Linked DNA regions of Homo sapiens. The protein of the gene in region 1 interacts with the protein of each later gene in a pairwise test. Each region holds a gene or a part of one and is shown in the gene's direction. Other genes may lie near its edges.

Evidence for each region.
Region 2: the proteins of TSPAN18 (region 1) and TMCO5A interact in a two-hybrid assay, tested with the Homo sapiens proteins (one large-scale study listed by BioGRID).

What each region holds. Positions count from the first base shown.
Region 1 is NC_000011.10:44,725,038-44,730,564, forward strand, and holds the start of TSPAN18 (tetraspanin-18), read left to right. Parts: upstream 1-1,924; 5' UTR 1,925-2,250; intron 2,251-2,358; exon of another isoform or gene 2,359-2,645; intron 2,646-5,527. UniProt on the Homo sapiens protein: Plays a role in the cell surface localization of ORAI1 and may participate in the regulation of Ca(2+) signaling and the VWF release in response to inflammatory stimuli.
Region 2 is NC_000015.10:37,940,394-37,945,290, forward strand, and holds part of TMCO5A (transmembrane and coiled-coil domain-containing protein 5A), read left to right. Parts: intron 1-755; coding exon 756-812; intron 813-1,277; coding exon 1,278-1,337; intron 1,338-1,797; coding exon 1,798-1,862; exon of another isoform or gene 1,863-1,894; intron 1,895-2,947; coding exon 2,948-3,005; intron 3,006-4,897.

The sequences.
Region 1 (5,527 bases):
TATCCCTCTCTCTGCCTGTCTCTGGTCTCCACTTCCCCAGCTCCAGCACCCTTGCTGTGGGCTTCCCGTTTTTCCTCTTTAAATGTATGTGGCGCCTGGTGTCCAAGGAGGCTCACACGGGGCCTCTCCCAGCAGCATTCCACAAGTGCAGGGCCTGTGGGGTGTTCAGCCTCCACCCTCCATTCTGTTTTGGCAGCTGAAGGGTGAATGTGGAGCCCTTCTCCTTGTCCTCCTCTTATAGAAATTCCACCATTAGGGACTTCCTCCCCTTGGGTGAAGCTTTGCTCACTCTGGGTCCCTTTGAAACCGCGGATCCAGGGATTTTTCTTCCAGCCACGTGCCTACTCTAAGAGTCCCGGTGACGCGGTGAAGTTCTTTAAAGGACCAGACATCCCTGAAGTCCTTACAGGGACATCCCCTTACAGGGACGAATCCATTTCCTGGAATGTGGGCAAGGAAAGGCAGCCACTTCCTGCCTCTCAAAACTCTGGCTGGTGGCTGGGTGCAGTGGCTACGTCTGTCATCTCAGCACTTTGGGAGACTGAGGTGGGAGGATCACTTGAGGCCAGGAATTGGAGACCAGCCTGGGCAACATGGTAAGAGTCCAGCTCTACAAAACACACACGCACACACACACACACACACACACACACACACACACACACACCAAAAACAACAGAAAACATTAGCCAGGCATGATGGCACATGCCTCTGGTCCCAGCTACTCGAGGGGGCTGAGTTGGAAGGATTGGATTGCTTGAGCCCAGGAGGTCGAGCCTACAGTAAGCCGTGCAGGAGGTCGGGCTACAGTGAGCTGTGCTTGTTGACCAGGCTTGTCCAGCCTGGTCAGCAGAGCGAGACCTTGTCTCAAAAACAAAACAAAAACAAAACAAGAAGATCCCCCTCCCCCCAAACTCTGCCCAGTGGCCTGACTACCAACATCCATATACAAGACAGGAGTAGGGTCAACTCCTTCCTATCAGTCACCCCTTAGTGAGAATCAGCTGGCCAAGGGGCCTCCTGCAGAGCTGATGTGTGCTTGAATGCCTAGGGCCCACGGGGATGGGGTGTGGAAGCTTCAAGCTGGGACTCAAAACAGAGTTGCCAAGGGAAGAGGAGTGGGCGACCCGAGCCCCTGTCATCAGTACTTTCACTTGGGCTGTCAGTTTTGATCTGCTTGCTTGTCCGTTTTGTCTGGGGCAGGGTCGGGTAGTTGTTTAGAGGAGGCTCAGAGGTTAAAAGTCTCAGGCAAGTCATGTCAGGGGTTGGGAGCCAGTGCTGCTGTGGCAGCAGTACAGAGAAGAAAAGATAAGCTCCCCAGCCCCGCAAGAACCTCAGCCCTGAGGCCGGAGACACAGATCTGGCCCCTTGCAATCAAGTCATTTGCATCTGACCTGGGGTCAGGCCCCTCCATGCAGGAAGTCCCCTTTCTTATCTGCAAGTCAGAGGAGGGTGAGTTCCCCAGGCTTTCAACAGGTACTTCCCCCGGCAGCGGGAAGCCCAGGAGCCCGATCAGGACCGAGGATCTCACCCCAACCCCTGCGTTTGGGCCCCGGGGTCAGCTGAAAGTTCCCCTGGAATAAACACTTCGGGTCCAGCATGCCCCTCTCCCCACTCCCGCAACGATCTTCCGAATTCAGACGCAGAGAGGGCCCGCGAGCAGAGCGGGAGGTGGTCGGAGGCGGAGGAAGGGGAGATGGGCAGAGGGTGGGCCCAGGGACCCCCAGACAAGGCCTGGACGCGGGGTTGGAGGAGGAGGCGGAGGCTGGCGGGAGGCGAGGGGCAGCCCGCAGAGGAGACGCGCTTCTCGGCAGCAACGGCGTCTGGAGCCGGGAGGGGCGGAGGTTTGGGGAGGGGGAGGGAGGGCGGGGGAGGGGAGGGACGGACGGCGGCGGAGGTGGGGCCGGCGGGCTGGCGGGCGTGCAGCTGCCGCCGGCGTCGCGGGGCTCCAGGCTGCGGGGCGGACGTAGCGCCGAGCGATCCACCGCGGAGCCGCGCGAGGCCGCCCGAGCCCCAGCCCCGGCCCCGGCCCCAGCCCCGGCCCCGGCCCCGGCCCCGGCCCCGGCCCCGGTCCCGGCCCCGAGCCCCGAGCGAGCGCCGCCGCCTCGCGCTGCGGGTCCCCGGACGCGCCGCCACCGCCGGGAAGGCAGCCGGCGCCGGGCAAGTTGCGAGCGCGCCCCTCCGACCAGGAAAGTTTCCCCCCGGCCGCCGGCGGGATTTGGCGCGGGGTCCGGCAGCCGCCGCTGGAAGGTATGGGGCTCCGCACCTCCGTGCCCTCCGCACGCCGCCGCCGCGCCCCCGGGGACCTGGGGACCCCCCCGCGCGCCGCCCCGGGGGTGCTGCTGGACGCGGCGGGGAATTGGGGTGGAGTAGGGATCCCAGGACGGAAGCCCGGCAACCAAGTTCCACTCAAACTAGCACGCGGGGGCTGGGGGGCCGGGGACGGTCTCCACCCCGTGCCTGCCCGGAGTCCGCTGAGGGCCGGGGGCTGCGCCCAGGACAGGTGCAGAGCCGGTGGGCTCCCAGTGCTCCGGGTGGAGGAGTGGGGGCTTCTGGAGAACGGCGCGGGGTGGCAGGTGTGGTTACAAGGTTCGGGGTTTCGGCCAGGGCTGCGCCCGGAAAGGGGCTGCTCGCCACGCCACCCGGTAAGACAGTGAGGGACCAGGGACTGGGAGCGGCGATCGGGGCCGGGAGGGCTGTGGGGCCCGGCAGCTGCATGGAGGGCGGGCTGCCTTTGGGGTCCCTGGCAGCGGGGCGGGGCGGGGCGGAGGCGCCACTCGTTCCTCCAGGACCCCCCTTATTCCTTAGGTGTGTGCGGTTTGGGGAAGTGGAGACTCCATGGAGTGCTGGGTGGGTGGGAGGCTCGGGCACGTCCAGATTTAGGGGGCAGTGGGAGCCAGTTGGGACGGTGCTCGGCTCGGGTGGGATCGCGCCGGCTCCGGGTCCTGCTGGAGTGAGGTGACTGGGCTCCCGCCAGGGGGCGCACTGCCCCGGCCCTCGCCAGCAGGAAGCGCGTTCTGGCTCCTGCGAGGCAACCGCGCCGACATCCAGGACGCAGGGACCACAGACACCCAACTTACGCGGGGTCCCGCCCCGAGGAGCCCGCCCTACACTAGCCAGACGGGGGAGCGGGACCAAGAGTGAGGCGAAAGGTTCACAGTTATAACTGCGCCGTGGGCTGGAAAGGCTAGGAGTCAGGATGTGATTTTTCTCGGGAAGGCTGCCAGGGCAAATGGATGAGTAAGAAATTTACCCCCAGAAAAAGATGTAAGAAACTACAACTGCGAATTGGTGCAGAGAGAGTGGGTTGGGGAATTAACTTTTTGACGGTTTTTGGAGTTGCAGAAACCCAAACCCCAAAATGCATGCACCCTTTTTGTAAAAGTTGCACCTTTGTTTCCTGGATCTGGTCGAATCCCTGTCTGGTGAAGGCAGGATGGGGGTCTTGGGGTATCCTCTCTCTGGGCACAAGTAAACTGGGAGGCACAGGGCGGGCGGTGGGGGATGGGGCCTTAAAGACTTCAGCAGTCCAGGCAGAAGTGTTAAATTTCTCAGCAGTCAACGAGCCCTGGCCCCCACCCTCATCCCCTGGGTCTGTGGTCTCTAGGCCACATTCTTCTGGTCATTTCACAATTATTGGTGGAAATCTGCCCTGGGTCCCAGTTGTCTGGCCTCAGGGTCCCTGTATGTTGAGTCTGTGTGTCTGTGCCTTGGGAAGTCGACGGCTGCTGGCATCTGTGAGGACTGTCATCTTTGTCATGTGCGGGGCTAACATTGAAGGGACATTGGAGGGACTATTGCCTCATCTTTCTCTCCAGTTCCCTCCCTCCTCCCATCACCCCAAGTGAGTGCAAAGGAGCAAATCATAGATTGTGCCGTGGCCTCATTGTGGTTGGTAGAAGTTTTCATCTTTCTCTTAGCTGGTAACCTGTGCTCCTTGGGCAGCCCCCCTCCTGCTCCCATGTCCTTAATGTCCCTTACAAAGGTGGGGGAAATGGGGGTCCCTGAAAGAGATGAGGTTCCTCTGTTCAATGTAGTCTGCCACATGTTTTTGTTGGATGCTACTGAAATGCTCCAGGACAAAGTTGCCATAAAGACAGATCAGCATGATTTTTATTTTGAATAGAAGAGGAGGAGGAGAGAGGAGAGAAAGGAAAGGGTGGAGAAGCCTGCTGTGTCTGGATAGGTCTTTAAGACATTCCAGGGGGCTGGAAAACAAAAGAAGTTTTTTTTTGTTGTGTTTTGCTTTTAGTGACTCTTGTTTTTCTGTGGAGGGAAGCCTGCATGGACCAGCCCTGCCTTGGAACCTGCCTGGGAGCATGGGGCCCCTAGAAGGCCAGCGTTTCCCGTGTTCTGTCCCTCCCCTCTTCTCCCTACCCCCACCCCACTTTTCCTGAATTGGAGAGGGAGTTGAAGGTCCCCAAGGGCTACTAAAGTCTGTGTTTGGGCTTAAAGTATCTTGTGTGGGCTCAGTCTTCTCCCAGGCAAACTCCAAGATCTCTGATTTAGCAACATTTCAAGTCTTGGGCACTCTGTTTCCTTGTCTCCCTTGTCCCCAAACCCATTCAAACAGCCAGTATATGTGGTGCTTTTACCCAACCCCAGTCTGAAATGGTAGCACATCATTGAAAGCTCCAGGACACTTTCTAGAAGCCGAAGTTAGTTGGGTTTAGGATACCTTGGGGTTGGGTTTAGGACACCTTGGGCTGAGTCCAGGAAGGAACCCTCTGCCCTTTAAAAAATGAGATTTTAATGGTCTGAGGGGTGTGTTGGAGGGCAGGGTGCTGGGTAGGGACACAGGATTAATTCAAGGATGTGTGGGAGGGGGTGCCAGGAAGAGGGAAAATAGCAGATTTGAAATCTAGCTCTTCTGAGTCATCCGTGTGGCCTTGGGCAGGTTATTTCCCCTCTTGAGCCTGCTTCCTCCGTCTGTAAAATGAATATGTTGGCTGAGGAGATTCTGAGCTATCTTGCAACTTAGAGCAGGAGAGTCTAACCTTTTAGGGGGCTGGGCAGCCCTGCTCCATTCCTTCTGCCTTCCATTCAGTGGAAGGTGCCTCTCCGGGCTGGCTTGCCTCTCTCTGCCCGCCTGTACACAGCAAAATCCTGCGTTGAGTGAATGCAGCAGCTTCAGAAACCAGCTCCTGCCATCAGAGCTGAAGGACAAAGTGCCCAGCAGTTTTGGGTAGAGAGGGGAATGTCTGTAACCAGTCCCTGCTGGGAGCCCCATGTTAGTCTGCAGGCTCGCTCCCCACTCTTCTTGGGAAGAGCCCTTTCAGTTCCTGGGGTGCAGGTTTTAGGGACCTCTCCCTTTCCAGAGGGCTGCTTTTCTGGTCTATTTCATCAGCCATTGAGAGGGAAAATCAGGAACATTTGTTCATGCTCAGCTGGGGTGCAGCACAGGGAGGGGGCCTTGGAAACCAGCACTCTGGTCCCACTGAGCAGATGACGCCCATTGATCAGGCGTTTCTACCACCTGATGCCATTGAGCAAATGTACCAGCTTGGGCTCCTCCTGCCACCCGGGC
Region 2 (4,897 bases), on another chromosome or scaffold:
ATACCCTTCACAGAGAACATATTTCTTCCAAATCTCCATTTAGCTAGCATTTATCATTTAGACTTTAGCTCAAGTATCATCACATCAGGGAGGCCTTTGCCAACCACCTACCACCTCCTCTCACACCACCACTACCATCACTATCTTTAAACATTAATTTTTTTTCCTTCATAGCACATACCATTATCATGTAGATGTATTTGTTGTGTCTCCCTACCAGAATGCCAGCTCTGCAAGGGTGGAAAGCTGGTCCATCCTGTCTACTACTGTATCCTAAGTACTACCCCCTGCCACCTGATACACACATGCTTCACTCCAGCATAGCAGCTGATATAGAATGGTCTTTTGCCAAGTATTGAAGGAAATAAAAGGGTGAGCAAGGCATACAGGGAGGGAGAAAGGAGTGAACAAACACCTTAGAGTCTGACTGACTATATTAAAAGGAAAAGGAAGAGTGAAGTTTTTCAAAACTGGTATTATTTTTAAGAGAAATGGCTAAGTAAGAGTAGGAAGCTCAGAATTGAAGTTTAGGGGTGAAGCTAGCACCAGATGAAGACTAAAAGGTAAGGAATATAAAAGAGCAAGTTTACCAAGCAGCTGCAAACGGTGCTGGGTGGCTTAATTCCTCTATCAGGAGACGTGTGAAGTCATGGCCCTGAGGCTCCTCACAGCTCGTGAGGCCACCTTGGTGACAGCATTCCATTCCTGCACAGCTTTTACCTTGCCAAGTTAGCAGTCTCTTTTGCTTTCTTTAGGTTAAGTTACAACAGCTGGAAGCTTCCTATGCATGCCAAGAGAAGGAGCTGCTCAAGGTAACAGCAGGAACTTCAATGTGACTTCTCCCCAAAAAGGGAAATGTGATCTTTGGTCAGGCAATCTATTTCTCAAGTGATTGATTTACATTAAGGTTCCAGATCCAAGACCATGATGGGGCTAGGGAGGGGTAAAGAAAAGGAAGATAAGCACAATCCCTGAGGTTGCTTTCTCTTCAAACATTTTTTTACAGAATACACTCTACAGTTTGTATCTCGCAAATATTAGTTATCTATCTATTCCTCTCCCAACTGCCCCCAAATTCCACCTTTGACCAATAACTCCCATTTAGCTTTTTTACCCTAAAAAAAGGAAATACATTTATCTGTACAGCAAAAAAGAAAACATATTTAGAACAATTAGAAAACCACATTTAGGACCTGGGACCCAAGAGAAAACAAGTATGCTTGTGTTCTTATAGCAATTTACCGAAATATATTTACAACTAAATTTTGATTTCCTAGGTAATGAAGGAGTATGCATTTGTGACCCAGCTCTGTGAAGATCAAGCCCTCTACATAAAGGTAGAGCTTCTTGGTAAAGGGATAGCAAAGGGTTTATTAAGGTACAGGATGAAATAGAACAAGGATTTTCAAAGACTACTGTCCAGAGCAATTTCAACAGTTCAAGGTGGCACTACTAGGATACTTTAAGGTCATCAGCACCCCACCTCACTATCAATATCACTCTATTTGTCTTTGTCTCCCTGGGAATTCCTGCCCTGCTCTCCCACTCTCTGTGCTGTTAAGTTAATAATTCACACTTCTGCTATTTATAATGTCAATGATGCCCAGAAACCTGTCCAGTGGTAAGGCATAGTGAGAGATCAAGAGTAGTAGGGGGGTGAGTTTTATGAAAGCAGAGAAAGTGGCAGTGGGAATACCAAGCATTCATGGTATCATGTAATAACAAGTGCTTATTATGCTTAGAAAAATTGTAAACCTTCTAAGTAGTAACTGTGGCTTTCTTTGTTTCTCTTTGAAGAAGTACCAGGAAACGTTGAAGAAAATAGAAGAAGAACTAGAGGCTCTGTTCCTTGAGAGAGAAGTGTGAGCTTTGGCAAAGGAACATCCTGGTTTTGGTAGAAACTCCATCTCAGCCTGAGTCAGAGCAAACAGTTCTCAGACCAATTTCTATTTGGAATTGAATGAGTCCCGACGCCACATATCTTTGCCCTCTGTTAGTGATCTGGTTGACCCCAGTAGATCACACCAACTTAAAACTTCCAGTCATTCTCCCATCCTTCTAAAAAGACCACAGAAACACATCTCCCTTCGTAATGTTATCACATTATCACATTATTATTCGGGTTGATATTAAGAGTAAAAACATGTACTTTAGAAAGAGTTGGTGGTCAGTCACCTTGATAAGTAGGGTATTCCTTATATATCACAGAAAGGCCTTTTCATTAATACCATCCTCACTTCCCCCAAATATATGGACACCCAACCATAAGGGATAGGCATGAAACTAATCTCTAGACTCATACTACAGCTACCACATTATATAAATCAGAACTGTACACTGTATTGAACTACGAACATTTAAAATTAGAGATGGGAAAGCACTCCTCAAAGTACAATGAGTTTGTCAAGAGTCTAAATGGTGAGAAATCCAAACCAAAAACCTCATCTCCATTTCTTGACCCCCTCTGTAAGTTAAATCTTAATGCAGTCAAGAAGTATTTCTATTTATGAAATATTTTTAAATCCTTAGATCAAGAACAAGAGATCAAAACTGCATATAGCCTCTCTCTATATATATATAGTCCAGGGTCCTAGGACTTGTAGGTCCTTGCCCCTAAAGGACACCTTCAAGTCACTCAAGATCCCTGCTGAACATTGGTTTATGGCTTAACTGTTAAGCCAAGATTCTAGAAAAGGTTGCCCAGTAGAATTTTCTGTGCTAGTTAGTAGGTAAAACTAACTACATATGGCAATTGAGTACATAAAAGATGTACTCAACTGAGGAAATTAATTTAACTTTAATTAATTTAAATAGCTATAGGTAGACAGTAGTTACAATATTGGACAGTACAGATTTAGAATATAAAGCTTTTTTAAAATAACCATAGTGTAGTATGAATATTTCAGTGCACTTTGTTCAATTTCTGTCCTGGCTGTTATCTTCATAGATCAAAACTCGTGAGCATGAACCCTGTGGAAAAAGAGCATACCAGCCAAAATAATGAGGTAAACACTCCATTCTCTCTTCAGCTCCTCACAGTGTCATTGCCTTTCAAAGCCATCTCCAGCAAACTATAAGGCACCAAATATATACCCAATCTTGCCATGCGCATTTTCCAAGAACAGTACCAGCTATAATTACAGAGCATTCCAACCCTAAACAAACAAACTAGACTCTAAGGAACAATCTACTTTCTTCTCATTCAGCCATACAAATAACAGGCTCTCAAAAAACTAGCCGAAGACCTAAGAGAACTCAGAATGGAGGCAAGAAGCAACCTTAATTGAGGGTATGCTCTATAGAAAGAGGCCAATATAGGGCACATACACCACCTCTTCCATCTCCTACAATCACAGTACTCTTTCCTGATGATCTTGACATGGTTCCTAATCTCTCACAACACAGAGCACCCACCATCTGTCATCATCTAGTCAGAATTGGCCTGTGAGTTAAAACATAGAACGCTATTGCTTCTTTGTGACAGAGTTTCAGTGTCTGTTCATATTTAATATAGCAAAGCCACCAGCACACATGTAAAGGTCTGAAGGAAAAGAACAATTTCATACAGAGCACCAATCCTCTTGGCCTGCTTGATGTCTTGTGGCAGCAAGGATAAAAGGTTAAAGTTAAACTTTGGTTGGGCTTTAATTTTGTAATTTATATTGGCTTTAGAGTCCAGGTTGACAAACATCAGAAATTACAGATAGTCAAGATAAATACTTAGAAAAGAGAACTAAACACTTCCTTAAAAGCAAATATCAAATATTGGCCATTGTGTTTGGGTCATCCAAATGTTTGGATATATGTTAGGCCATGTCCATGGTTCTTAAGAGTACTGAACAAGTCATTCTGGCCCCGAAGCTTGCATATTCTGCTTAGTAAACAAAATCCCTGAAATTAACTCGACCCACTTCTGTAGAACCAAGTTTTTGACATCTCCAATGTGTCCTACCATCTCTCCCCACAGCTCATCAAAATATTCCTTCTAACTATGTGTCAGAGGAAAAAATTAAAGTTGTCTACATCAAGCTCATCAGGGTCCCATGATGGTTCAATGACCTAGTGATGTCTGAGCAACTTTGGAGACAGGATGCCTGAGAACTGACTGTTTGGCAGGCCATGTAATCTTACTCAAACTATAGATCAAAATTTGTAATCCTAAAAGTTTCTTTCTAATTCAAATTCTGTAAGCCTCTTTTCCACAGCTCTAATTTTTTTTAGTAGAAAGATGAAGTCTCACTATGTTGTTCAGGCTGGTCTTTAACTCCTGGGCTCAAGGGTTCCTCCCACCTCAACCTCCCAAGTAGCTAGGACTACAGGCACCCACCACCATGCCTGGCTGGCTCTAAAATGTGATCATAATTCCTCTTTTTATCTCACAAGGAAGGTTAAAGGACAATGAAATAACTGAGAAAATATTTTGAAACCAGAATGCCACAGAAATACAGGACATAGCCTCATCTTTAGATTTTTTTTTCTTCAACTTTTAAGTTCAGGGGTACATGTGCAGGATGTGCAGGTTTGTTACATAGGTAAACGTGTGCCATGGTGGTTTGCTGCACAGATCATCCCATCACCTAGGTATTAAGCCCAGCATCTACTAGCTATTCTTCCTAATGCTCTCCCTCCCACTACCTCAACCCCACTGACAAGCTCCAGTGTGTGTTGTTCCCCTGCATGTGTCCATGTGTTCTCATCATTCAGCTCCCACTTATAAGTGAGAACATGCAGTGTTTGGGTTTCTGTTCTTGGGTTAGTTGGCTGAGTAAAATGGCTTCCAATACCACCCATGTCCCTGCAAAGGACATGATATCATTCCTTTTTATGGCCGCATAGTATTCCATGATGTATATATATCACATATTCTTTATCCAGTCTATCATTGATGGGCACTTAG